Homo sapiens: one gene and its partners. The protein of the gene in region 1 interacts with the protein of each later gene in a pairwise test. Each region holds a gene or a part of one and is shown on either strand. Other genes may lie near its edges. The genes, in order: PSMA3, RBFOX2, NPPB, PWWP2B, CCL28, RBM42 and ZNF366.

Evidence for each region.
Region 2: the proteins of PSMA3 (region 1) and RBFOX2 interact in binary tests that used the Homo sapiens proteins (3 or more experiments, as listed by UniProt).
Region 3: the proteins of PSMA3 (region 1) and NPPB interact in binary tests that used the Homo sapiens proteins (3 or more experiments, as listed by UniProt).
Region 4: the proteins of PSMA3 (region 1) and PWWP2B interact in binary tests that used the Homo sapiens proteins (3 or more experiments, as listed by UniProt).
Region 5: the proteins of PSMA3 (region 1) and CCL28 interact in binary tests that used the Homo sapiens proteins (3 or more experiments, as listed by UniProt).
Region 6: the proteins of PSMA3 (region 1) and RBM42 interact in binary tests that used the Homo sapiens proteins (3 or more experiments, as listed by UniProt).
Region 7: the proteins of PSMA3 (region 1) and ZNF366 interact in binary tests that used the Homo sapiens proteins (3 or more experiments, as listed by UniProt).

The regions. Positions count from the first base shown.
Region 1 is NC_000014.9:58,268,843-58,272,504, forward strand, and holds the end of PSMA3 (proteasome subunit alpha type-3), read left to right. Parts: intron 1-1,575; coding exon 1,576-1,643; intron 1,644-2,091; coding exon 2,092-2,156; intron 2,157-3,008; coding exon 3,009-3,053; 3' UTR 3,054-3,162; downstream 3,163-3,662. UniProt on the Homo sapiens protein: Component of the 20S core proteasome complex involved in the proteolytic degradation of most intracellular proteins. This complex plays numerous essential roles within the cell by associating with different regulatory particles.
Region 2 is NC_000022.11:35,808,825-35,812,324, forward strand, and holds part of RBFOX2 (RNA binding protein fox-1 homolog 2), read right to left. Parts: intron 1,181-3,500; coding exon 956-1,180; intron 1-955. UniProt on the Homo sapiens protein: RNA-binding protein that regulates alternative splicing events by binding to 5'-UGCAUGU-3' elements. Prevents binding of U2AF2 to the 3'-splice site.
Region 3 is NC_000001.11:11,856,964-11,860,120, forward strand, and holds NPPB (natriuretic peptides B preproprotein), read right to left. Parts: upstream 1,983-3,157; 5' UTR 1,871-1,982; coding exon 1,739-1,870; intron 1,507-1,738; coding exon 1,251-1,506; intron 709-1,250; coding exon 692-708; 3' UTR 501-691; downstream 1-500.
Region 4 is NC_000010.11:132,395,774-132,399,999, reverse strand, and holds the start of PWWP2B (PWWP domain-containing protein 2B), read right to left. Parts: upstream 2,801-4,226; 5' UTR 2,774-2,800; coding exon 2,649-2,773; intron 2,405-2,648; exon of another isoform or gene 2,098-2,404; intron 2,072-2,097; exon of another isoform or gene 565-2,071; intron 1-564. UniProt on the Homo sapiens protein: Chromatin-binding protein that acts as an adapter between distinct nucleosome components (H3K36me3 or H2A.Z) and chromatin-modifying complexes, contributing to the regulation of the levels of histone acetylation at actively transcribed genes.
Region 5 is NC_000005.10:43,402,392-43,405,891, forward strand, and holds part of CCL28 (C-C motif chemokine 28 isoform a precursor), read right to left. Parts: intron 1-3,500. UniProt on the Homo sapiens protein: Chemotactic activity for resting CD4, CD8 T-cells and eosinophils. Binds to CCR3 and CCR10 and induces calcium mobilization in a dose-dependent manner.
Region 6 is NC_000019.10:35,632,036-35,635,110, reverse strand, and holds part of RBM42 (RNA-binding protein 42), read right to left. Parts: intron 2,176-3,075; coding exon 2,110-2,175; intron 2,035-2,109; coding exon 1,859-2,034; intron 1,425-1,858; coding exon 1,092-1,424; intron 856-1,091; coding exon 738-855; intron 1-737. UniProt on the Homo sapiens protein: Binds (via the RRM domain) to the 3'-untranslated region (UTR) of CDKN1A mRNA.
Region 7 is NC_000005.10:72,458,911-72,462,410, reverse strand, and holds part of ZNF366 (zinc finger protein 366), read left to right. Parts: intron 1-900; 5' UTR 901-914; coding exon 915-2,246; intron 2,247-3,500. UniProt on the Homo sapiens protein: Has transcriptional repression activity. Acts as a corepressor of ESR1; the function seems to involve CTBP1 and histone deacetylases.

The DNA of each region.
Region 1 (3,662 bases):
ATAGCAAGGTTTTAGAAGACCCTCCAAAAAGTAAGGTATGTAACTCAGTGCATAGTATTAGATAAAGCTATACTCTGCTACTGTACTTAATTTGATACTTTTTTTTTTTTGAGATGGAGTCTCACTCTGTCGTCCAGACTGGAGGGCAGTGGCACGATCTTGGCTCACTGCAACCTCCGCCTCCCGTGTTCAAGCAATTCTCCTGCATCAGCCTCTCAAGTAGCTGGGATTACAGGCGCCCACCACCACACCTGGCTAATTTTTGTATTTTTAGTAGAGACAGGCTTTACCATCTTGGCCAGGCTGGTCTTGAACTCCTGACCTTGTGATCCACCCACCTTGGCCTCCCAAAGTGCTGGGATTACAGATGTGAACCACCGCACCTGGCCTCTTGATACTTTTTATGTTACTTTAATATGTTGCATGACAGTGCCTCCTTCTTTGCTGTAATTTGTAAGGTACTACAATGTGAAGGCCAGGTTATGTGGCATATATGCCATTATAAAATGGACAAGGAGCTTAAAAAGACTACTGCCAAGAAGCTATAGGTTGAAGAGACCACTAATAATTGCAAGCACATAAATTAGTTTTTTTTTTTTTATTTTTTTGAAACAGAGTCTCACTCTGTTGCCCAGGCTGGAGTGCAGTGTCGTGATCTCAGCTCACTGCAGCCCCTACCTCCTGGGTTCAAGCAAGTCTCCTGCCTCAGTTTCCCGAGTAGTTGGGACTACAGGCCTATGGCCACCTCACCTGGCTAATTTTTGTATTTTTAGTAGAGACGTGGGTTCACCATGTTGGCCAGGATGGTCTCGAACTCCTGACCTCATGATCCACCCGCCTCTGCCTCCCCAAAGTGCTAGGATTACAGGCACGAGCCACCATGTCCAGCCAATTAGTTGGTTTTAAATATATTTAAGTTAATGGACAAAATATTCTAAAAGGGCACAGTTAATGACGCCTCTTCCTAGTGAATCCGTGTTCTTTATGAGGTATCTTTTATAGTTGTATCTTTTTTTTTTTCTGAGATGGAGTCTCGCTCTACTGTAGCCCAGGATGGAGTGCAGTAGTGTGATCTTGGCTCACTGCAACCCCTGCCTCCCGGGTTCAAGGAATTCTCCTGCCTTAGCCTCCTGAGTAGCTGAGATTACAGGCGCCCACCACCACACCTGGCTGATTTTTGTTTCTTAGTAGAGACAGGGTTTCACCATGTTGGCCAGGCTAGTCTCGAACTGACCTCAAGTGATCCATCCGCCTTGGTCTCCCAAAGTGTTGGGATTACAGGTGTGAGCCACTGTGCCCAGCCAAGTTATATCTCTAAAGCAATGTGCAAAAATAAACTGAACTTGGGTTGATTAGGTATATTCAACATTTGTCGGGAGAGTAGATGTTTCATTTTATTTCAGTCCCTGTGTAATTTGTCTTCTCTAATGTTAAATACTATGTAGAATGTGTCTGTGTAATTTTATAGATACTTTTATTATGGATGGACATTCTAATTTGTACTGACTTTGGGTCTGTGAACTACTTCAATGTTTGGAGGTTACCAAAATCTTACCTTTCCCTTTTCTATTCTAGAATTTACATAGTACATGACGAAGTTAAGGATAAAGCTTTTGAACTAGAACTCAGCTGGGTTGGTGAATGTAAGTTATTTTTGTACATTTATTTGCCTTAGGAATGATCTGTACCACAGCTAATTTACAACTGAGTGTCCTTTCTAATATAATGAAAGCTAAAGCAAATTTACTAGGTTGTCTAATGAAGGGAAAGTTCTGCTTAATAATTGACTTAAGTTGTGAACACGTTATTTTTTGAAACATCCATTTCATGGTTTTAAGATACTATGCTATAAATTAATGCTCAGGATTTATAAATAGCATAATTTACTTTCATTTCCATAAGAACTTAATATGTAGGCACATATAATCTCATGTAGAAGCAGCACACAAAAATATTCGAGTATTACTCATAGTACAACTTTGCAACCTTAGGTGAGTCAGATATGTGGATTGGGTAGATCCTATGGTATACTGCAAGTTACAATATGGTACTCAATTTAAAATTCATTTACACATGTGGCTTAATTTACAGTAACTAATGGAAGACATGAAATTGTTCCAAAAGATATAAGAGAAGAAGCAGAGAAATATGCTAAGGTAAGCCACAGCACAAAAACTTCTCTTGGCCAGGTACAGTCAGGGAATCACTTAGCCCAGGAGTTTGAGACCAGCCTGAGCAGCACAGCAAGACCCCCATCCCTAATTTAAAAAAAAAAAAATTCTCTAACCAAAATTATGTGTTGAATAATATAAATAGACTGGGGTGGTTTCTATGAAATAACACTGAGAGTTCAGTTGAACTAAAGATAGAAATTTTCTAGGTTATCTCTAGTGGGTAAAGTTGCCTTGGTTCCAAAAAAAAAAAACTTGGGAGGTTTAGACTGCAAAGAGTTTTTTAGGACTTTTAATACTTTAAATATTTGTTCTTTTTTTTTTTTTTTTTTTTGAGACGGAGTCTTGCTCTGTCACCCAGGCTGGAGGGCAGTGGCACCATCTCTGCTCACTGCAACCTCTGCCTCCAGGGTTCAAGCGATCCTCCTGCCTCCGCCTCCCAAGTAGCTGGGATTACAGGAACATGCCACCATACCTGGCTACTTTTGTATTTTTGGCTTCACCAATAATACAGAGACGGGTTTTCACCAGGCTAGTTTCAAACTCTTGAACTCACGTGATCTGCCTACTTTGGCCCCCGTAAAGTGCTGGGATTACAGGCATGAACACTGCACCAGGCCTCTTAAGTATATATTCTATCAAAGATACAGTCATTGCATGTTAGAGCAACATTTGCTTAATTAACTTTGCTTGGGTATCTTATTCTGAAACTGTTCATTCAGTTACAAGTAGAGGAATTTAACCACTTAATTCAGGTTGTTGTAGCTTAACTTGCCCACAGGTGTGGGATATAACAATTTTAAAAATCAATTTTAAACACCTGTTTTCTCTTAACAGGAATCTCTGAAGGAAGAAGATGAATCAGATGATGATAATATGTAACATTTACTCCAGCATCTATTGTATTTTAAATTTCTACTCCAGTCCAATGTAACTATTTAGCCCTGGATTATACATACTGTCCAATTTTCATTAAATTTTTGTCTTATAACTATTGAAGTTTGGTTAATATCTGCTTTACAAAATTGGTGGGGGTAAATGAGGACATTTACTCAGTATTAAAATATAGATTTATGACTACTGAAAAATTCCCTGGTTAAAATGCTGCAGAATTAATTCCAAGACTGTAGATTAATTCAAAGCCCCATCTTCATCACTCAACTAGAATTTACAGATCATATTCTCCTGGGCTTTTGTACAAAAAGCACCTACCAACTTAGTGGACAAATAACTGATACGGTTTCCCACTTTCATATGAAGTAACTGGTGGTCATCAGTCACTGTTAATCTTTAGATGTGATACAGATGACAGATGTTTCAGTTTTGGATAATTTTTCAAAAACTGACCCTTCTCAAAAAAGACCCTTCAATACATGAGTCAAGGATGTTTTTGCTTTTTTCCTTTATTGTGGTGAGGGGCGGATTTAAGGATCAATAAAGTCCCTATTCTGTCACTAAAAAAATTTCTTGATCTCTAAAGATTAAAATAAA
Region 2 (3,500 bases), on another chromosome or scaffold:
CCTGGACAACAAAGCAAGAGACAATACAATTTCCCATATGTTGGTATGTATGAGATATATACCTATTATTAATTTATGACATTTCCTTTACTTTAGCAAGTTAGTAGTAAGAGGTGAAGTCAAAGAGGTAAGCTGGGGCTAGAGACTAGTAAACCAAGTACGGAGTTCAGATTATATTCTAATTGCATTAGGGAACTATTAAGAGTTAAGTAGGAAATCGGCATTTGCATTAAAAAAAAAAAAAAACCACCTTAGTCCTATGTGGAGGATAGATAAGTTAGGCAACAGTAATACCGGAAATAAGTGATGAGGTTTGGACTAGAGCAGTGATGATGATAAATTCTTTTAAATTTCCTAACAGCCTCTTCAGGTAGGTACTATTATCTTCATTTTAGAGTGAGCCAAGGGCAGAGAGATTAAATAACTGGTCCAAGGTCACACAGTTTAGTAGGGGCCATATTGAGATTCAAACACAAGCAATTTGGTGGAAGAGTAATAAGATGTAGAGAAGAAGACGAAGTAGTTTTAGAGTTATGGTTGTCAAGACTTGCTAATCAATTAGATGTACAGATGAAAGAAAGAAAGAAAGAATATTCCTAGGTTTTGCTTGAGTTTGGTAGTATAATTATGCAGAGAAAGGATATAAAATAAAAAGAAAAGGGGTTCCAGGACCTACATATGGAGTACTGCACCATTTAAAAGTTGAACAGAGAAGGAGGCAGGAGCAGAACACCCAGTGCTTGGCAGGAAAATTGGGAGAGCTCGAAAAGCCAAGAGACTAAGTATTTCTAGGAGGAGGGAGGACAATGTATACAATGCTGTTGAGAGAAGGTGTAAATGAGAACAGGTGTAAATGCTAAATTAATTCCGAGAGTCTTCTAATTGTATAATTAAGGCGACAATTTCTATATGATTGCCATGCATCCTTCCATTTTTCACCTCATGGTCCACGTACCGTAAGAGATCCATTTTGTGTGCTGGGTGAGTTGCTGCTCTGCTCCCCGTGGGCTTGCGTACTTCCGTAGAGTGTCAGGTTATGCTCACCGGTCTGGCCGGCATAGTCTTGAGTGTGTGGCACCCCATACTCTGTGGGAATTCCATTCTGCGGAGGTGGTGGAAATGGGATGGTAGTAAAAGGCTGAACCATTGCGTCAGGAGTTGTTGTCGGCTCCTGGTTACCCTAAAACAAACAACAAGAGAAAGAAAAAGTGACTTTGAATCCTTGTTACGTAACTATTTTTAAAGTGAGTATATGGAATTCTCTGAATATTCTCTCACTGCATAGGTAAAATGGAATGCTTATTGCTCCAGGATTGGAGAAAATATTATTACACATACACACATAGATATATGTATGTGGACAGACACACACACACACACACACACACACACACACACACTCACTTTTGTTAATGTGTAGTTACTAGACAGGCCCACAACCATATTTAAGTGGACTAGATGCCAAAGGGGCAAAAATCTTTCCTTTAAATTAAAAGTAGGTGGAGAGCCCACTTTGGACCACAAGCCACTACAGCCTATACCACAGAGAGAGACTCTGTCCCTAAAAAATACGAAAAACAAAAAAGAAAAATCAACTAGGAGAAAATATTAGCAAAAGGTAAGAGAGATGCTGGGTTATTATCACTAGTCCCAGAGTGGGTTAACCAAGTTGACAAGACAGACACACATGTACACACAAACACACACACATCCCAAGAGAAAAACAGGCAAACTGTGTATCTGAACAATTCATTGAAAATGAAATACAAACAACTAATAAAAATGCTCAACCTCACTAACTGTCACGAAAATTCACATTAACATCAAAGTAAGTCCAAGTCTTTAGTCATCAAATCAGCAAAAAAATTAAGCAGTTTTATTATGATATAACTGTCATATGATAAACAGCACTTATTTATTTACAGTATACAATTTGGTAAGTTTTGATATATGCACTTATATTCTCATGAAATCATCACCACAATCAAGATAGTCAACACATATATCCAAAACCCCCAAAAGTTTCCTTGTGCCCCAATAATAAACATATATTACTTTTGTAATAAAACCTATACAAATATATTGTTTTTAATACTAAAGAGAATGACAAAAAATATATCATCAATAAGGGGAAGCCAATATTCTGAAACACTGAATTACTGTGTTACTCTTAAGAGAATGGTAGTGACCTACCTTGAAACAAAAATTCATAACTCTCTTCCATTTAAAAGTTAAACAACTTCAAAATTCAGCTGTCTCCAATGTCCAAGAATCATTTCTACTTGGTAATAAAAACTGCTTTACACAATAGTGGTGAAAGAAAAAAGGCAGAGAATTGGGGGTGGGGGGCTGCCACAGTCTAGATAAAAAGTGATGAACTGATTACAGTTATCAGTGGGAAGGGGCAGAGTCATAGACTGAGTTGTGCTCAGTCTCCAACCCGTATGTTGAAGTTCTAACCCTCAGTACCTCAAAATGTCACTGTTTTTAAAGATAAGGTCTTTAAAAAGGTAATTAAAGTGATGTCATGAGGGTGGGCCTTAATCCAATTGGAGTGGTGTCCTTATAAGAAAAGGGAATGTGGATACAGACACATACAGAGGGAGGCCCATGTGAAGACACAGAGCATGACCATCTACAAGCCAACAAAAAAGACATCAGAAGAAACCAACCCTGCTGACACCCTGATCTTGCACTTCTAGCCTCCAGAATGGTAAGAAAATACATTGCTATATTGTTATGTAATACTTTCTTATGGCAGCCCTTGCAAACTGGTAAAGGCAGGAATGAAGATTCTGTAACAGAAATTAATAATAAAAATAAAAATAAATTGCTTTACATAAAAATTTTCCTGCTATTGGACATAATGGTTCATGCCCTTGTAATCCCAGCACTTTGGGAGGCTGAGATGGGAGGACTGCCTGCGGCTAGGAGTTCAAGATCAGCCTGGCCAACACAAAGAGACCCTGTCTCTAGAAAAACTTTAAAAAATTAGCTGGGCATGGTGGTATGTGTAGTCCCAGCTACTTGTGAGGCTGAGAAAGGAGGACTGCTTGAGCCCAGGAGCTGGAGGCTGCAGTGAGCCATGATTGCATCACCCTAGCCTGGGCAACAGAAAGACCACGTCTCTTAAGGGAAAAAAAAAAAAAAAAAAGGCTGGGTGTGGTGGCTCACTTCTGTAATCCCAGCACCTTGTGAGGCTGAGGCGGGCAGATCACTTGAGGTCAGGAGTTCAATACCAGCCTGGCCAACATGGTGAAACTCCATCCCTATTAAAAATACAAAAATTAGCCAAGCATGGTGCCAAATGCCTTTAATCTCAGATATCTTGGAAGCTGAGGCAGGAGAATCGCTTGAACTCAGGAGGAGGACATTGCAGTGAACTGACATCGCTGCCATTAAACTCTAGCCCGGGCAACAGAGTGAGTGAGACTCCATCTCAAAAGATAGAAAAAAAAAAAAACCCCTCTCTTTAGTTCTTAGAAAATATGTTATGAAAA
Region 3 (3,157 bases), on another chromosome or scaffold:
GGGTTGGAGTTTTGAAGGCTCCTTTGCAGGATGACCCCAGGAATTGGAGTTTCAAAGCTGATATTTGGGGCAGGATGGAGGGCTCACCCCGGTATGGGAATGTAGATGAGCCACACCCACACACACTGCCCCCAGTCGTTGACATTTTAGCTGAGACCTGAAAGCAATAATCCCCAGGGAGAGTGCTTTAATGGTGGAATTCCAGGCAGAGCAAGGACGAGTGGAGAAAACGGCTGGATACGTGCCCTCAGGTTGCACACGTATCCTGCCCTGCTTTGAAAAGCAGTTTCTCCCAAGTGCCTCAAGTGCTTGAGATATTCAATAACATTTCAGAGCATTAAAAACTCTGAAAGAAAAGAAAGCCTGCTACCTCTGAGGCCACATCCTCATCCCACCATGAAGATGCCTTGAGATCACAGGGCTTTGTGGTTTTAGTTGGGTTGGTTTCTTTGAAATGAGGGATTATTTTTAATGCGCCAAGACAAATCAGTTTCAAAAGATAAAGCTTATAATGTTGACTTTATTTCACCGTGGAAATTTTGTGCTCAAAGGTAAGAAACCATCTTATATAAAACAATCAAATAAATACATAAATACATTAAAAAAATGAGTCACTTCAAAGGCGGCCACAGGGTTGAGGAAAAAGCCCCTTGTGGAATCAGAAGCAGGTGTCTGCAGCCAGGACTTCCTCTTAATGCCGCCTCAGCACTGTCAGGGAAAGAGAGAGGGTGATGATGGTTAGGGTGGGAGATGGAGGCAGGGGCTGAGCTTACCTCATCGTGTGCCACCCACCACCCTGTTAGTCATCAGACGTTTGAGGCTTAATGCAACTCTCTGAGCCTCAGTTTCCTCATCTGTAAATTGGGGATTATCATTGCTCTGGTGATCCTGCTCTCTGCCTTTGAGACTATAGACAGTTTAGAGGAAACCAGGAGGAAATGTTTGGTTCTCTTTCTGCACCACTGGGGGGCTGCCAAATGATAAACAGACCCCCAAAGGAGATTCTGCCCCTTTGATAAGAAGTAGGAGGTGGGGAGAAGGTATTGTGGGCATGGTAATGAAATAAGCCCACATTTACTAATTCCACAAAGGCACCCCTTGGCCCTGAAGGCTGTTAACAAGAGGAAGCGATGTCCAGGTGACCTTTTCTCAAAGAGTGTGGTTCCCAGAGACAACAAACCCCAAAGTGACTCTAACAGTGTCACACACTGGAATGGGGGAAGGCGGCCGGGGTGGCAGGGGGTGCTTACCTTTGCAGCCCAGGCCACTGGAGGAGCTGATCCGGTCCATCTTCCTCCCAAAGCAGCCAGACCCTTGCACCATCTTGGGGCTTCGTGGTGCCCGCAGGGTGTAGAGGACCATTTTGCGGTGCCCACGGATGCCCTCGGTGGCTACCTCCCGGGACTTCCAGACACCTGTGGGACGGGGGCTCTCCTGGAGGGGCTCCAGGGATGTCTGCTCCACCTGCAGCTCCGACAGTTTGCCCTGCAAATGGTTGCGCTGCTCCTGCAATGAATGGGGGCGTCCAAGCCTCAGGGACCCACCCCTGGGCTCACCAGCCCTTCATGGCACCCAAGTGAACCGACTGCCTTGGGTACAGGGTCAGGGCACCCAGTCTCTCCATTTTCTGATTCCTTTATCACTAATTCCAAAGGAAAGATGAGGGCCTCTTGGGACAGCAGGTGAGGACCCTTTCATTGCTGCTGTCCAATCCCCCTGAGCTGCCCTCCGCTCTCACCTGTAACCCGGACGTTTCCAAGTCCGAGGCTGAACCGGGGCTGCCCAGCGGGTGGGAACGACCTCCCAGGAAAGCCAGATGCAAGAAGAGCAGGAGCAGGAGCGCCCGGGAAGGTGCTGTCTGGGGATCCATGTCTCTGGAGGGACTGCGGAGGCTGCTGCTGCTGCTTCTGCTGCTGCTGCTGCTGCTGCGATGCGTCCGGGTTTGCTTCCCACCTGCCCTCAGCCTGCGGGGTGCTCCTCCTGGCTCCTCGGGACACCGTGGCCTTTTATCCTGGAGCTGAGTGTCGGGCCTGCCCTGCCATGCAGGGTTATCTCTGATTTATCAGCCACATTCCGGGCCTCTGAGATCAGGGCCCGGGAATGAGCCCCTCCGCGCCTGCGACGTGGGAGGTGGAGACCGGGCAGAGCCGACCTTGTATAGAAATGGGCCGGGTCGGGCCGGGGGGCAGGAACGCGCTGGAGACACAGACAAGTCCCCGTCTCCCGCTTCTTCCTTTCCTGCAAATGTCCAGGTGTCCTAGGTTGGCGCTTTCTTCCTGCCTCCCCACCCCACCGTTGCTGGAAAAGGCAGGGAGGACCCCGGCTTTCCGAGGACCGACGTGAGCGCGGGGAGCACGGGGTGACTCACAGCGAAAACAGCCCCGGCCAAGACCCCGCCACCCGCGGCGCCTCTCCCCTCCCCGCGCGAGTTCCCTGGCCCGCACGTAGCGCAGCACCTGCTCGCCGCTGTGCACCCTGCCTGCCTGCGGGTCCTCGGGGGCGCCCTGGCCGCTGTCCGTGGTGCTGATCACCCCGAGGGAACTTGGAGCAAACTCTCAAGAGCTGCTCTCTTCAACGGGATTTTCAGGCCAGAAAGACCTGCGTGGAGCAAGGACAAGAGACCTCCGAGACCTTTCCCTATGCTCTCACAATCCGCCATCTTATAGTCCTTACAGCAACGGGATGCTGATTCCCCAGTGGCAATTCATTAAAAGCCTGGGTATGACCAGGAACTTCTGGAATGCTGACCCTTCTTTCACTCCTTAAAGGGAAGAGCAGATTTCGCTGGAATTTTGAGAGATAGGGTCCAGTGATGACGAAGTCACCCAAGAATGCCTTATATGTGTGTCCTCCACGTGTCAACACCTCCTCTCCCCCACCAAGCCAACACAGGATGGAAAACAAAAGGATAGGCTGGGCATGGTGGTTCACGCCTGTAATCCCAGCACTTTGAGAGGCCGAGGCGGTCGGATCACGAGGTCAGGAGATCGAGACCACGGTGAAACCCCGTCTCTACTAAAATTACCAAAAATTAGCTGGGCATGGTGGCAGGCGCCTGTAGTCCCAGCTACTCGGGAGGCTGAGGAAGGAGAATCACTTGAACCCAGGAGGTGGAGGTTGCAGTGAGCTGAGATCACGCCACTGCACTCCAGCCTGG
Region 4 (4,226 bases), on another chromosome or scaffold:
GGTGTGGTTCACAGAGGACAGTCCCCTGACCTTTCCAGCAGTCTGTGTCTGGAACCATAGGCAACCCACAACTGGGGGAGGCCGATAAATACCAGCTCAGAGATGGAGCCAGGAGGCTCTGGTGGGGCAGGCCAGCCCTTCCGCACTCGGAGCCTCGTCTGTCCTCAGGCCACCCCTCAGCCAGGGCCACCCCACCCAAGATCCTCAACCAGAAGCATGTCCCCAAATCACCCACAAAACAACGCAGGTCAGGACAAGGCTTGTGTCATCGATGCTCTGGAAGGAACCACCACCACATTGGCCCAGACTGGGGGAAGATCACTGGAGGCCGCCTGCTCCGGGCTCAGCCCACTTCCTGGCACACAGTAGGTGTGCAGTGAACTCACCCAGATGTACACGCAGGCTGACACTCAAGAGAATCTTGCTTCAGATCACATGGCCCTTGTGGCACAAGCCAGGCAATTCCACCCACCTGCCAAGCCCCTCTCCCCTCTGCTTTGCAAGCAAGGGAGAGAATGCCATCTCCCAAACCGGCCGACAACAAACGCTGGCTGCTGGGCCCACCTCAGCCCTGCATCCCGGCGCCTGTGTGAGCGGGGCCGCCATTCCCGTGGGATTGCTCTGAACAGGTGCCTGGCTGCCCGCCGCCTGCGCTCAACAGCGCCGGTTGTGCTGGGACCCACAGGTTCCCTGAGGTGGGCGGACACCTGTCATAGGGCTCCCAGCAGCTCTTCCCTGTGAGTCAGCACCCACACTTGGGGACTGGGCCTCCACTGTCACATGCAGGGGATAAGGGCGGGCACCACGCCCTGATGAGAAACTGGCACCTGGGGAAGGCAGGTCAGCACCCTGCGGTCCGAGGCAGGGCTGGAAACAGGAGCCCTGGGACTCGGAATACAAGGGCAGAGAACCGGCTGGAGACTCAGGCTCAGGGGAGATGAGGGAGGGGGCGGGGGTCCTTCCAGGACAAGCCTCAGGACTGGGGCTGGGGGAGAGGAGAACAGCCGGACAGACTCAGGCACAGGGGAGATGAGGGAGGGGGCAGGGGTCCTTCCAGGACAAGCCTCAGGACTGGGGGTCGGGGAGCCTGCTCTACCTTCAGATTCCCCACAAGGACAAGGGGGCCAGCCCAAGGCAGCAAGGTTGGCTGCTAAGTGGCTGTGCCCGCAGAGGCCCAGCGCCCGGCTCCGTGGGCGGCTCTGGTTACAGCTGAACGTGGCAGGCAGGGTTGACACCCATGCATCCTACAGCTGCCAGTTCCCACGCCGGGGGTCCCATCGGGCCTGGTTTTTTCCATGAAGGGGAGGCGGTGGTGTAGATTTGCAAACCAGGTTAGCCATGGGCCTCAGGGAGGAGAGCCCGAGGCCACTGCAGATATTCTCAGCCTCCCTTGTCCCGAGTCAAGGAACCTGGGAAATGGGGCAACCCACTGCCGCTCGTGCCCCTCTTCAGGGAGGAAAGGCCAGGCAAGGTGGTGCAGGTCTGGCAGGGGTGCGGCCCTGCTGACCAGGACCAAGCCCAACCCTGCCCGCCAGAGGAAGCTGAGGCCGATGGTGGAGGGGATGGCAGCTCCCAGGTGGCGATTCTCACCCCCCGAGTGTCCCTCCATCCTGCCCGTGCACTCCCAGCGGTAGCCCACACGGAGCGGGCAGGAACCACACGGGAGCCATATGTTAAATCACGTGACTTGTGGATAAATGGCTTCTGGCACATCTAATGAAGAGATAACGTCTGCGAAATAATTGTGGAAGGAACACGGTCCTCTCTGCTAATTCATGTCACCAGGCAAAAATCTGGGCTCCACGGATGGAAAAAGTTGGGCCTTTACAAGAGGAGCCTTTCCCTGCTCCCAGTTTCAAAAGAAAGCCCTGCAGGAGCGCAGCGAGGCCACAGCCTGATTCATGCCTAATCATTGATCTGGCAGCGACAGCTCCCTGCCATGTGACGCGGTGTCCAGGAGGCTCATCTGCACCGCATGGGTCCCTGCAGCCCGTGCACAGGTGCCTCTCAGGAGGAACCGCCCCGCCCTGCCCTGCGCCCCCCACCCAGGAAGCCAGGGCTCCCGGGGGATGTGCCCACGGCTCCCACAGCTTGTACCTCTTCACGCCCCCATGACTCAGGGCTCCCTGGCCTGAAACTGTTCTTAAATCGCACAGCTGGGCGCAACTGCTCTCCCCGAATCCAAACCTCAGCCGCGGAGTCACTCCCAGCAGCCAGGGGCCCGTGGCCTTCGACAGGGCACCCCCACCTGTGAGGAACTGCCAGGGCAAGGCCACGGCGCATCTGACCCTCCCCTGCTTTAACGACAATTCTGCCAACAGTCGAATTCAACAGTGGCTCTGAACAAAGAAAAGTGCATTAATTATGGCAGATGTGTGGAGTTCCGGGACCCCGGCCCCGCGCCCCCCGCCCCGGCCCGCCCCGGCCCGGCGCCCGCCCCGAAAAGTCGCGACGACTTTGAGAACCACTTTTGCCCCCCCGAGTGGCGGCCGCGCTCGCGCGCCCCGAAACTCAGGCTCGGCAGAAACCGAAAGCGGGCGCCGGGGCCACGCCACCCCCAACCCGGAGGCGGGTCCCGGGTCTCCGGGCGGCGGAGGCGGGTGTCGCGTGGGGACCCCGGGGGTGTCCCGGCCCGCGCCCCCGCTCACTTTTTCGTGCAGTCCAGCAGGATCCCCGCGAAGCTCCGCTCGCCGCAGCTCACCGTGACCACCAGCGCGCCGTTGACGACCTGCTCCACCCGCACCGGCAGCCGGCAGCCGGCGCGCGGCTCCATGCTCCCGCCGCGTCCCAGGCCGCCCCCGCCCCGCCGCCGCCGCCGCCGCCGCCGCCGCCGCCGGGTCAGCCCCGCGCGTGACGCCGCCCCGCGGCCGCCTGACGTCACAAAGCTCCGCTGGGGCGGCCGCCACAGCCGAGCCGAGCCGGGCCGGGGGCGCGCGGCCGCGGGCTCCGCTCCCGGGGACCCCGCCCGCCGCCGCCGCGTCCCGGGAGAAGCCGCGCCCGCCCGCAGAGGTCGGCCGGACGCGCGGTGCGGACCCCCGGGCTGGAGAGGGGGCTGCGCCCGGGCTCGCGGCCCACGCTGGCCGGGAGTGTCCCCTGGCTCGGGAGGACCCGAGAGCCACGAGCCCGGGGGCGGCGGGGGGGACACCCGCCGCGGCCGGAGCCCCGGGACCCCATCCCCCCGCTCCCCTGCCTGGGGCCGGTCCCGGGCCCCCCTCCCCCTCCGGGCCCAGCCCTGCGCCCTCCCTCCCTCCCCGGTGGCCCGGATCCTCCCGCCTGGGGTCGGCCGCCCGCGTGTCCCGGCAGCGCCCCGCGCTGGGCTCTGGTGGCCCCGGGCACTGCGGCGAGGAAGTCCCGGGCGGCGCGCGCAGGAAGCCGGGGCAGGCGGAGGGGACGCGGGGCGCCCGGGGGCAGCGGCCTAGTGTCGCCCTCGCCGCGTGGGGGGCGGGACACTGGGTCGCCCCACTGGGCTCGGCGCCTCTCGGGGCGACAAGCGGGCGCGCGCCCGGCTCAGGGCCACCCTGCGCGCCTGGGGGTGGCCGGCACCGGGGCCCGGGGGGTTAACTCCCTCCGGAGGTCTCGGGCGTGTCTCTTCGGGTTGCCGGGCCCAGGGGCCAGGCGCGCCTCCGCCAGTTTACAAAGGAAACAGCCTCCTTCCCCCGCGGCAGGGGCTCCCCGACCCGCGGGCGAGGAGTGGGAGGTGACGGCGCCGGACCCCCTTCCCCCAGGCGCCCGGCTCCCGCGCCTTCAGGCGTCAAAGCCCCCGACTTCCCCGAGCACCAGCACGTCCGCACCCGGCTCAGAACGCAGGGGCCCGGCCTGCTGCGGTGACCTTGGCCCCGGGCCGGGCTTCTGAGCCGGACTTGCAGCGCCTGACGAGGCCTGGAGGCGGGGCGGGGGACCGCGTAGTTGTCCTGGCGACCCAGCGCCGCCGGGCAGGGCTCCTCCCAGCCTGGGAATTGAGGACCACCGCCCCTGGTGCCACTGGGGACCGTCGGGTCGCTGGCGCCTGTCGACCTCGCCCTCCGGCGGCCGCGCGGCAGTGGGAGCCTCAGAGAGGAGCCAGGGCGGAGTGAGGGAGCCCGCGGGGCCTGGGACACCTGACCGTCCGGCTAGAACAGGGGTAGGGACCGAGGCCGAATGAGCCAGAGTTCTGGCCGGGGACAGTCCCAGAGGAGGCCTGGAAGCCCAGTGAGTGTCTGTCCTCCTCTGTGTGGCCTGGGGCTCCC
Region 5 (3,500 bases), on another chromosome or scaffold:
GGAAGTTTAAATGTTTTATGTAAGATGAAGATGCAGATTTTCAGAATTAACTTTTTGTGTTGAATAGATATACTGTTATCTATGATTAAAATATGTGTTAAGACAATATGTAGATTGTGATCCTGTTTCTGTTCTAAAAAATTGGTGTGTGCCGGTTCCAAGATGGCCGAATAGGAACAGCTCCAGTCTACAGCTCCCAGCGTGAGCAACACAGAAAACGGGTGATTTCTGCATTTCCAACTGAGGTACTGGGACCATCTCACTGTGGCTTGTCAGACAGTGGGTGCAGTCCATGGAGCGTGAGCTGAAGCAGGGCAGGGCGTTGTCTCACCCAGGAAGTGCAAGGGGTCGGGGAATTCCCTTTCCTAGCCAAGGGAAGCCGTGACAGACAGTACCTGGAAAATCGGGACACTCCCACCCTAATACTGCGCTTTTCCAATGGTCTTAGCAAACGGCACACCAGAAGATTATATCCCATGCCTGGCTTGGAGGGTCCCACACCCACAGAGCCTCGCTCACTGCTAGCACAGCGGTCTGAGATTGAACAGCAAGGCGGCAGTGAGGCTGGGGGAAGGGCGTCTGCCATTGCTGAGGCTTGAATAGGTAAACAAAATGGCCAGGAAGCTCGAACTGGGTGGAGCCCACTGCAGCTCAAGGAGGCCTGCCTGCCTCTGTAGACTCCACCTCTGGGAACAGGGCATAGTTGAACAAAAGGCAGCAGAAACTTCTGCAGACTTAAACGTCCCTATCTGGCAGCTTTGAAGAGAGTAGTGGTTCTACCAGCATGGAGTTTGAGATCTGAGAATGGACAGATTGCATCCTCAAGTGGGTCCCTGACCCCTGAGTAGCCTAACTGGGAGACTCCTCCCAGTAGGGGCCGACTGACACCTCATACAGCCGGGTGACCCTCTGAGATGAAGCTTGCAGAGGAAGGATCAGGCAGCAACATTTGCCATTCTGCAATATTTGCTGTTCTGCAGCCTCCGCTGGTGATATCCAGGCAAACAGGGTCTGGAGTGGACCTCCAGCAAACTCCAACAGACCTGCAGCTGAGGGTCCTGACTGTCAGAAGGAAAACTAACAAACAGAAAGGACATCCACACCAAAACCCCATCTGTACGTCACCATCATCAAAGACCAAAGGTAGACAAAACCACAAAAATGGAGAAAAAACAGAGCAGAAAAACTGACAAATCTAAAAATCAGAGTGCCTTTCCTCCTCCAAAGGAACGCAGCTCCTCACCAGCAATGGAACAAAGCTGGATGGAAAATGACTTTGACAAGTTGAGAGAAGAAGGCTTCAGATGATCAAACTACTCCGAGCTAAAGGAGGAAGTTCGAACCCATGGCAAAGAAGTTAAAAACCTTGAAAAAAGATTAGATGAATGGCTAACTATAATAACCAATGCAGAGAAGTCCTTAAAGGACCTGATGGAGCTGAAAACCACAGCACGAGAACTACGTGACGAATGCAGAAGCCTCAGTAGCCGATTCGACCAACTGGAAGGAAGGGTATGGTGATGGAAGATGAAATGAATGAAATGAAGTGAGAAGAGAAGTTTAGAGAAAAAAGAATAAAAAGAAATGAACAAAGCCTCCAAGAAATATGGGACTATGTGAAAAGACCAAATCTACGTCTGATTGGTGTATCTGAAAGTGACGGGGAGAATGGAACCAAGTTGGAAAACACTCTTCAGGATATCATCCAGGAGAACTTCCCCAACCTAGCAAGGCAGGCCAACATTCAAATTCAGGAAATACAGAGAATGCCACAAAATACTCCTCAAGAAGAGCAACTCTGAGACACATAATTGTCAGATTCACCAAAGTTGAAATGAAGGAAAAAATGTTAAGGGCAGCCAGAGAGAAAGGTCGGGTTACCCACAAAGGGAAGCCCATCAGACTAACAGCTGATCCCTCAGCAGAAACTCTACAAGCCAGAAGAGAGTAGGGGCCAATATTCAACATTCTTAAAGAAAAGAATTTTCAACTCAGAATCTCATATCCACCCAAACTAAGCTTCATAAGTGAAGGAGAAATAAACCCCTTTACAGACAAGCAAATGCTGAGAGATTTTGTCACCACCAGGCCTGTCTTACAAGAGCTCCTGAAGGGAGCACTAAACATGGAAAGAAAGAACCAGTACCAGCCACTGCAAAAACATGCCAAATTGTAAAGACCATCGATGCTAGGAAGAAACTGCATCAACTAACGGGCAAAATAACCAGCTAGCATCATAATGACAGGATGAAAATCACACATAACAATATTAACCTTAAATGTAATTGGGCTAAATGCTCCAATTAAAAGACACAGACTGGCAAACTGGATAAAGAGTCAAGACCCATCAGTGTGCGCTGCATTCAGGAGACCCATCTCAAGTGCAGGGACACACACAGGCTCAAAATAAAGGGATGAAGGAAGATCTACCAAGCAAATGGAAAACAAAAAAAACAGGGTTGCAATCCTAGTCTCTGATAAGACAGACTTTAAACCAACAAAGATCAAAAGAGACAAAGAAGGCCATTACATAACGGTAAAGGTATCAATTCAACAAGAAGAGCTAACTATCCTAAATACATATGCACCCAATACAGGAGCACCCAGATTCATAAAGCAAGCTCTTAGAGACCTACAAAGAGACTTAGACTCCCACACAATAATGGGAGACTTTAACACCCCACTGTCAACATTAGACAAATCAACAAGACAGAAAGTTAACAAAGATATCCAGGAATTGAACACAGATGTGCACCAAGCAGACCTAATAGACATCTACAGAACTCTCCACCCCAAATCAACAGAATATACGTTCTTCTTAGCATCACATTGCACTTATTCCAAAATAGTTGGAAGTAAAGCACTGCTCTGCAAATGTAAAAGAACAGAAATTATAACAAACTGTCTCTCAGACCACATGCAATCAAACTAGAACTCAGGATTAAGAAACTCACTCAAAACTGCTTAACTACATGGAAACTGAACAACCTGCTCATGAATGACTACTGGGTACATAACAAAATGAAGGCAGAAATAAAGATGTTCTTTGAAACCAATGAGAACAAAGACATAACATACCAGAATCTCTGGGACACATTTTAAGCAGTGTGTAGGGGGAAATTTATAGCACTACATGTGAACAAGAGAAAGCAGGAAAGATCTAAAATTGACACCCTAACATCACAATTAAAAGAACTAGAGAAGCAAGAGCAAACACATTCAAAAGCCTACAGGAGTCTAGAAATAACTAAGATCAGAGCAGAACTGGAGGAGATAGACAAACAAAAAACCATTCAAAAAATCAATGAATCCAGGAGCTGGTTTTTTGAAAAGATCAACAAAATTGATAGACCACTAGCAAGACTAATAAATAAGAAAAGAGACAAGAATCAAATAGACGCAATAAAAAATGATAAGGAGAATATCACCACCAATCCCACAGAAATACAAACTACCATCAGAGAATACTATAAACACCTCTATGCAAATAAGCTAGAAAA
Region 6 (3,075 bases), on another chromosome or scaffold:
ACTCCTGACCTCAAGTGATCCACCTGCCTCCGCCTCCCAAAGTGCTGGGATTACAGGTGTGAGCCACCGTGCCTGGCCAAAATATCTCTTTTCTTAGGAGATAAATACTGAGATATTTAGAAGTGATTAATTCACTTATAACTTGCTTCAAATGACTGAGCTAAAAACAAAGAAACCAGATACATACACAAAGAGGAAAAAAGTGAACACAGCAAAATGTTAATTGCAGAATCTAGGTGGTGGGTAGACGGGTGTTTACTGTGCCATCTGTGTTTAAAATTTTTCCCGGCCAGGTACAGTGGCTCATGCCTGTAATCCCAGCACTTTGGGAGGCTGAGGCAGGAGAATCACTTGAACCTGGGGGGCGGAGGCTGCAGTGAGCCAAGATTGCGCCACTGCACTGCAGCCTGGGCGACAGAGTGGTACTCTGTCTCATAAAAAAAAAAAAAAAAAATTTTTATCCTAAGAGTTGGGAAAAAAAAAGAATGCTCTCTGAAGCCAGGCACCTCATGAGTAAAACAGGCTACAAAGCCCCATGTCCCCGTCACCTCCACCAAGCTCCGGCCCATGGCTAGGTGAAGAACCAGCCCCTGAGCCATAGCCTCCCCTCCCCAAGGTGGGCTAACAACAGCGCCCACCCTACTGAGAGGGTTCACCCTCCCAGTCTGCAGCCCAAGGACAGCAGCCTGGTCTGACCTTGGCCGAGCCACGCCTGACCTCGAGCTTCAGCAGCTTACCTGCATCCCACTCCAGCAGGCTGGGGTCCTCCCAGCTGCTCCCTGCCGCTGTGCGAATGCACCGTTTCAATTTCTCTGGCTTCCCCTTCTTCTTGTCTTCACCCAGGGGCTCTGGGACCTGCAGAGGAAAGGGGAGAGGTGCAAAGGGGTTGGTATTGGGGTCTCCCACTGTCCTTTGGTCCCCGGCCCTCCTGCCACCACAGTAAGGGCTGGATGTGCTTCTGGATGTGGGGCACATGTGTCCGCCTCCCTCCCCCAGGTCCTCCTGCTGTCCGGTCTGTCTGTGTGGAAGTTCCTGGGCTCCTGTCTGCCCCCCGTCCCTTCTGTCCCTTCACCGCTAGGCTCCCTGCTTACCTCAAGAGCCATGAGGCCTGGGGGTGGCTCTGGCCGAGGGGGCCGGGGCCGAGGACGCAGGGACAGGAGTTCAGGAATGCGCAGCGGGGGCAGGAGGCCGCGGACGACCTCCAACGGGAGGGGCAGGGGCTCAGGCTCGGGCAATGGCATGGCCAGGGCCAGCGGCAGGCTGGGCCCAATGACTGCAGGGCCAGCTGGGGCACCTCCTGCCCCCACGGCCACAGCCGCGCTAGCCTCCTCCAGCCCAGCCGCCGCCGCCACCACTGCCTCTTCCTTCTCTTTCAGGCCCAACCCCAGGCCTAGGCCCAGCTCTCGGGGTGCTGCTGGCTCTTCCTGTGGGTAAGAGGAGAGCATGAGGGGGGCCGGCTCACAGGCTCAGACTTTACTGTCATCTCCATTCCATCCAACAAAGAAAGGGCCTGGGGGCCAGAGAGCAGCCAAGAGACACCCAAGCAGAGAGTCTCCAGCCAGACAAACACAGAGAAGGAGAAACACAGGCAGAGAGAGACAGCCACAGACAAGAACATCAGTAACAATCAAAAGAGAAATATTCCAATAGCATGTTTCTCTCTGTACTCCCTTCACAAAAGGAGAGAACAGATTTTGCCACAGAAAGATGCAGAAAGAGACAGAGACAAAGGCAGAGTGAGAAGGTAGAGAAACAGAAAGTCAGGAGAGAGGCCAACTCAGACATAGCCCATTGGGCCAGGATGGATGGTCTCCCCGTCCACCGCACATCTGACCGTTAGTTCCCTGTTCACACTCACCAGAGGGGGCCTCAGTGCAGCCATGGAGCCCAGCGGGGGCCCTGGAGCCCGAGCCATTGGTGGCAGCATCATGGGTGGTCCAGGGGGCCCAGGCAGAGGGGGGCCCACGAGGGCCTGGTGAGGGGGCCGTAGGGCCATAGGGCGGGGGCCGGCTGCTGCAGAGGAGAGAGCGGAATCTGTCAGGGTGTTAGTGGGGAGTTCCAGGGCCTGGGGGGAGTTATGTGGCAGGGATGATGACCCTGGCCCCTCACCTGCTCTCTGTAGCACGTGGGGGACGAAGGCTGGACGCAGGATAGGGGCCCTCTGGGGGGCCACAGCTGTGGGAGAGAGAGATGGGGGTGTGTGTCATGGGGGACAGGGGCACTTGGGACAAGGTGTGTGTGTGCATGCGTGTGTGTGTGTGCACTCTCAGCATCAAGAAATCCTGGAGAAGAGTCTGGGGAGCCCTCCTGGAGATGTGGGGGCCTCTCCCCTGGTTCATTCCATGAAAATTTACCACTGAGAAGCTCCTCTGGCTCAGCCCTGTGGCAGGCAATGCTGGGGACACACCAACAGACCCAGGGTTCTCAGGGAGCTCCTGGTCCAGAGGAGGAGGGAATGGAGACATCACTAGAGAAGGAGAGCCAGTGGGGACCAGCGCTGGAAGCAGGGAAGCCCAGGCAGTGGGATCAGTGCTAAGAGAGGGGAGCCCTCTGACCCAGCCAGGCCCAGGGAAGGCTTCCTGGAGAAAGGGACCTGTGAGCTGAGACCCAAGGGGCAATGAAGTGTTAGGCAAGGGGTGAGTGGGAATATTATTGGCAGGAAGAATATTTATAAGCAAAACCTTTCCCTTTTCAGTTTAGTGTAACTGTAATAGAAGTAGTGGGGCTTAGAGAGTGTCATGAGAAGGGCTGAGCAGCCAGCAGGCACCCCAGTAGAGCTTTTTTGTTCTTAAAGCACAGCATTCTTGGCTGAGCCATGGGTGTCCTCCTGAGGGCACTGGGGAGCCACAGCAGGGTTGGAAGCTGGGCAGGGGAAGTAGGTCAGATTTGCATTTTGATCAAAACCATACTAAAAAGTAAGAGACATTACAACTTCTCAGAGATCATCAGATTAATAAGTATAACAGGATTTAGGTAACATAAGTAGCACGTTTGGTTTAACCGAGATTATACCAGAATTTTACATCCAAGTAAGAACACGCATCCTTTTCATACATATAAGGAAGTAATGTCCTA
Region 7 (3,500 bases), on another chromosome or scaffold:
GCTGTGTCAGCAGGGGACATGTCAGGCACCACAGGAGTCACCAAGCCTGCCCCTTACTTTGACACCTGTCTGAAAGGAGAGACCCATGTGCGGCTTTATTTCACATAATAAAGGAATATTTCATTCCAGCTTGCTTCAGGTTTAAGAGTGGAATGTGTACATTGCCAGGATGACTTTATAACATTGAGCTACTCAATATGCTTTTTAAAATCATGTTTATGTCATTCACTCCCTATGCCTTAGTAGCACACCTTACTCAGAGTGGATACTCAGAAACGATTAGATCTGAGTTAAGCATTAACATCCCTTCTCCTATGAGGCTTTGAATATCCTCATTTTCCAGCAGCAAAGGCCCAAGCAAGGGAGTAGCAGTGAAAATTGGTTTCCTTACACAAAGAAAAGACCCTAAAAGTCACTTTCCAATCACCATTAGTAGATGTAATTACAACTCAGATTGAAAAGCTGCAGCAGAATGGGTCTAGTGCTCACTCCTTCAGTGAGTACCTATGTAACTTGAGAATGTCATTTCATTTATCTGGACTTTGGTACCCTGATCTTAAATGGGGACAATGGCCAGATGAGTTCTCAGGTTTCTTCCCAAACTAGTCCACTTCCCTTGCTACCATCACCCCTTGTGGTTTTGTGGCTGGATTTACACTGGAGCCCAATTTGATTCAGCCCTAGGGTCACCCCAAGAGGCCAGTGCTATCCATATTGATAACTGGGTTTGCAAGGAGAAAGAAAAGCGATATTTTGAACAGCCCTAGGATAAATGAGGGTCCATATTAAGCAAGTACTACTCTTCATAAATTAGTACTGATAAATAGCCATAATCCTTAAGGAAAAAGAGAATTTTAAACAAAACCAAACCAAAACACACAAGTTTCTTTCTCTTTAAAGGAAAATTGCCAAGGATGCAGAAGGAAATGAAGATGATCAAAGACGAGGATGTGCATTTCGACTTGGCTGTGAAGAAGACCCCCTCCTTTCCCCACTGCCTGCAGCCAGTGGCTTCTCGGGGAAAGGCTCCCCAAAGACACCCCTTCCCGGAAGCTCTCCGAGGGCCATTTTCCCAGTTTCGGTATGAACCTCCCCCAGGAGACCTAGATGGGTTCCCCGGGGTCTTCGAAGGAGCAGGGTCTAGGAAACGGAAGAGCATGCCCACAAAGATGCCCTATAACCACCCTGCAGAAGAAGTCACCCTCGCCCTCCACTCAGAGGAGAACAAAAACCACGGCCTTCCCAACCTCCCTTTGCTGTTCCCGCAGCCCCCGCGCCCCAAGTATGACTCTCAGATGATCGACCTGTGCAACGTGGGCTTCCAATTCTACCGCAGCCTGGAACACTTTGGGGGCAAGCCCGTCAAGCAGGAACCCATTAAGCCCAGCGCCGTGTGGCCCCAGCCAACGCCCACTCCATTCCTGCCCACGCCCTACCCCTACTACCCCAAAGTCCACCCGGGCCTCATGTTCCCCTTCTTCGTGCCCTCGTCCTCGCCCTTCCCCTTCAGCCGGCACACCTTCCTGCCCAAGCAGCCCCCGGAACCTCTGCTGCCCCGGAAAGCCGAGCCCCAGGAGAGCGAGGAGACCAAGCAGAAGGTGGAGAGGGTGGACGTGAACGTGCAGATCGATGACAGCTACTACGTGGACGTGGGCGGCTCGCAGAAGCGCTGGCAGTGCCCCACCTGCGAGAAGTCCTACACCTCCAAGTACAACCTGGTCACCCACATCCTGGGCCACAGTGGGATCAAGCCGCACGCGTGCACGCACTGCGGGAAGCTCTTCAAGCAGCTCAGCCACCTGCATACCCACATGCTGACCCACCAGGGCACGCGGCCCCACAAGTGCCAGGTGTGCCACAAGGCCTTCACCCAGACCAGCCACCTGAAGCGCCACATGATGCAGCACAGCGAGGTGAAGCCGCACAACTGCCGCGTGTGCGGCCGCGGCTTTGCCTACCCCAGCGAGCTCAAGGCCCACGAAGCCAAGCACGCCAGTGGGCGCGAGAACATCTGTGTGGAGTGCGGCCTCGACTTCCCCACCTTGGCCCAGCTGAAGAGACACCTCACCACGCACCGGGGCCCCATCCAGTACAACTGCTCCGAGTGCGACAAGACCTTCCAGTACCCGAGCCAGCTGCAGAACCACATGATGAAGCACAAGGACATCCGGCCCTACATCTGCTCAGAGTGTGGCATGGAGTTTGTGCAGCCGCACCACCTCAAGCAGCACTCCCTCACCCACAAGGTACTGCGGGGCCTCTGGTGGGGCGGACGGGGCCTTGGGAAGAGGAGCGGGGCCCTGAGCAGAGCACTGGGGAGCAGGACGCCTGTGCCGCTCTGCACCTTACCCCGAGGAGGTGGGCAACCCCGGACAAGCGGTCCCTTGGCCGAGCCCTGAGGTCCTTCCTCACGTTTAAATAAGAGAGAACGATTCTCGACCAAGCCCTTTGCCCCAGCAGCCTTCTAGACTCTAAGGTAGGCCTAGAAATAAATAATGCAGACATTTGCAGAGGAGATGAGGAAGGATGCTCCCTAGCCTCCAAGAATCTTGCAGATTCGGTTTCTAGAAACTTCATCCAAGGCACTAGCATGAGTAAGTCATCAGACCCTAGATCAGCTCTGTGCCTGGGATGTGCCAGGGAGCACCTTCTGGATAATTCTCTTCGTCTTGTACTGTTGAAGCAGTGGAAAACTTTTTGGATTGTTTTCTCCCTCAACTGTGAGACCTGCTTCATATGCAAGTTCTCCAAGGGAAGCAGAGCTTGGCTGAGGCCGGCAGGGCCTATACCTCCCTGCGTTGGACCCGTGCCTAGCTGGGTGAAGTGCCCTGTGGTTTACATTGTAGGAGGCATGAGAAAGCATCCTTCTCTGTTTGGTTTTGTTTGATCTTCTCTGTGCTCAGGTCTTCAAGGGGAAATACAGGCCCAAGAGTCTGAGTTCAGCCCAGTTTGCAACCATAGCCCTGGAGTCATTCAGGCTGAACTAAAACAAGGCCCTAGTGGTGTTCCTGAAATCTTACCCCAGCTAAAGTATGGAACCTGCTCTGAGCCTCCGAGAGGGAGTTTTGCCCCCACTGACTCCCACTCTCACACCCTTAACCTCAAGTGGTTTTCTTGGCAGGAAAGACTTCTAGCAAGCCAGAGTTTCTAAAGCATTCTTTAATTCTGAAAGGTCAGGAGAGGACTTTGCCCAGCCAAGATAATGTTTCTGCTGTGCTATAATACGTTTCACTTCTTAGGTTAGGACAAAACACAGGGTATTTTCTGGCTCTGCCACAGAGATGAAATGTGTGGCTGCCTTGTGGGCTCTGCACAAACAGCTCCTGCCCTACAAAAGGTACCTGTAGATACTATCCAGAGGGGAGTCGCCTGCCAAGTGCAGGAACCATCAACAAAGGACCCAGACTGGGATTCAGCCGTAAAGGGGACCATTCGCTAACTTCAGGGGCTCCTTTATATGTGGGAAAGGAATCAAAAGTGCATTTTAGAGCATATGAAGA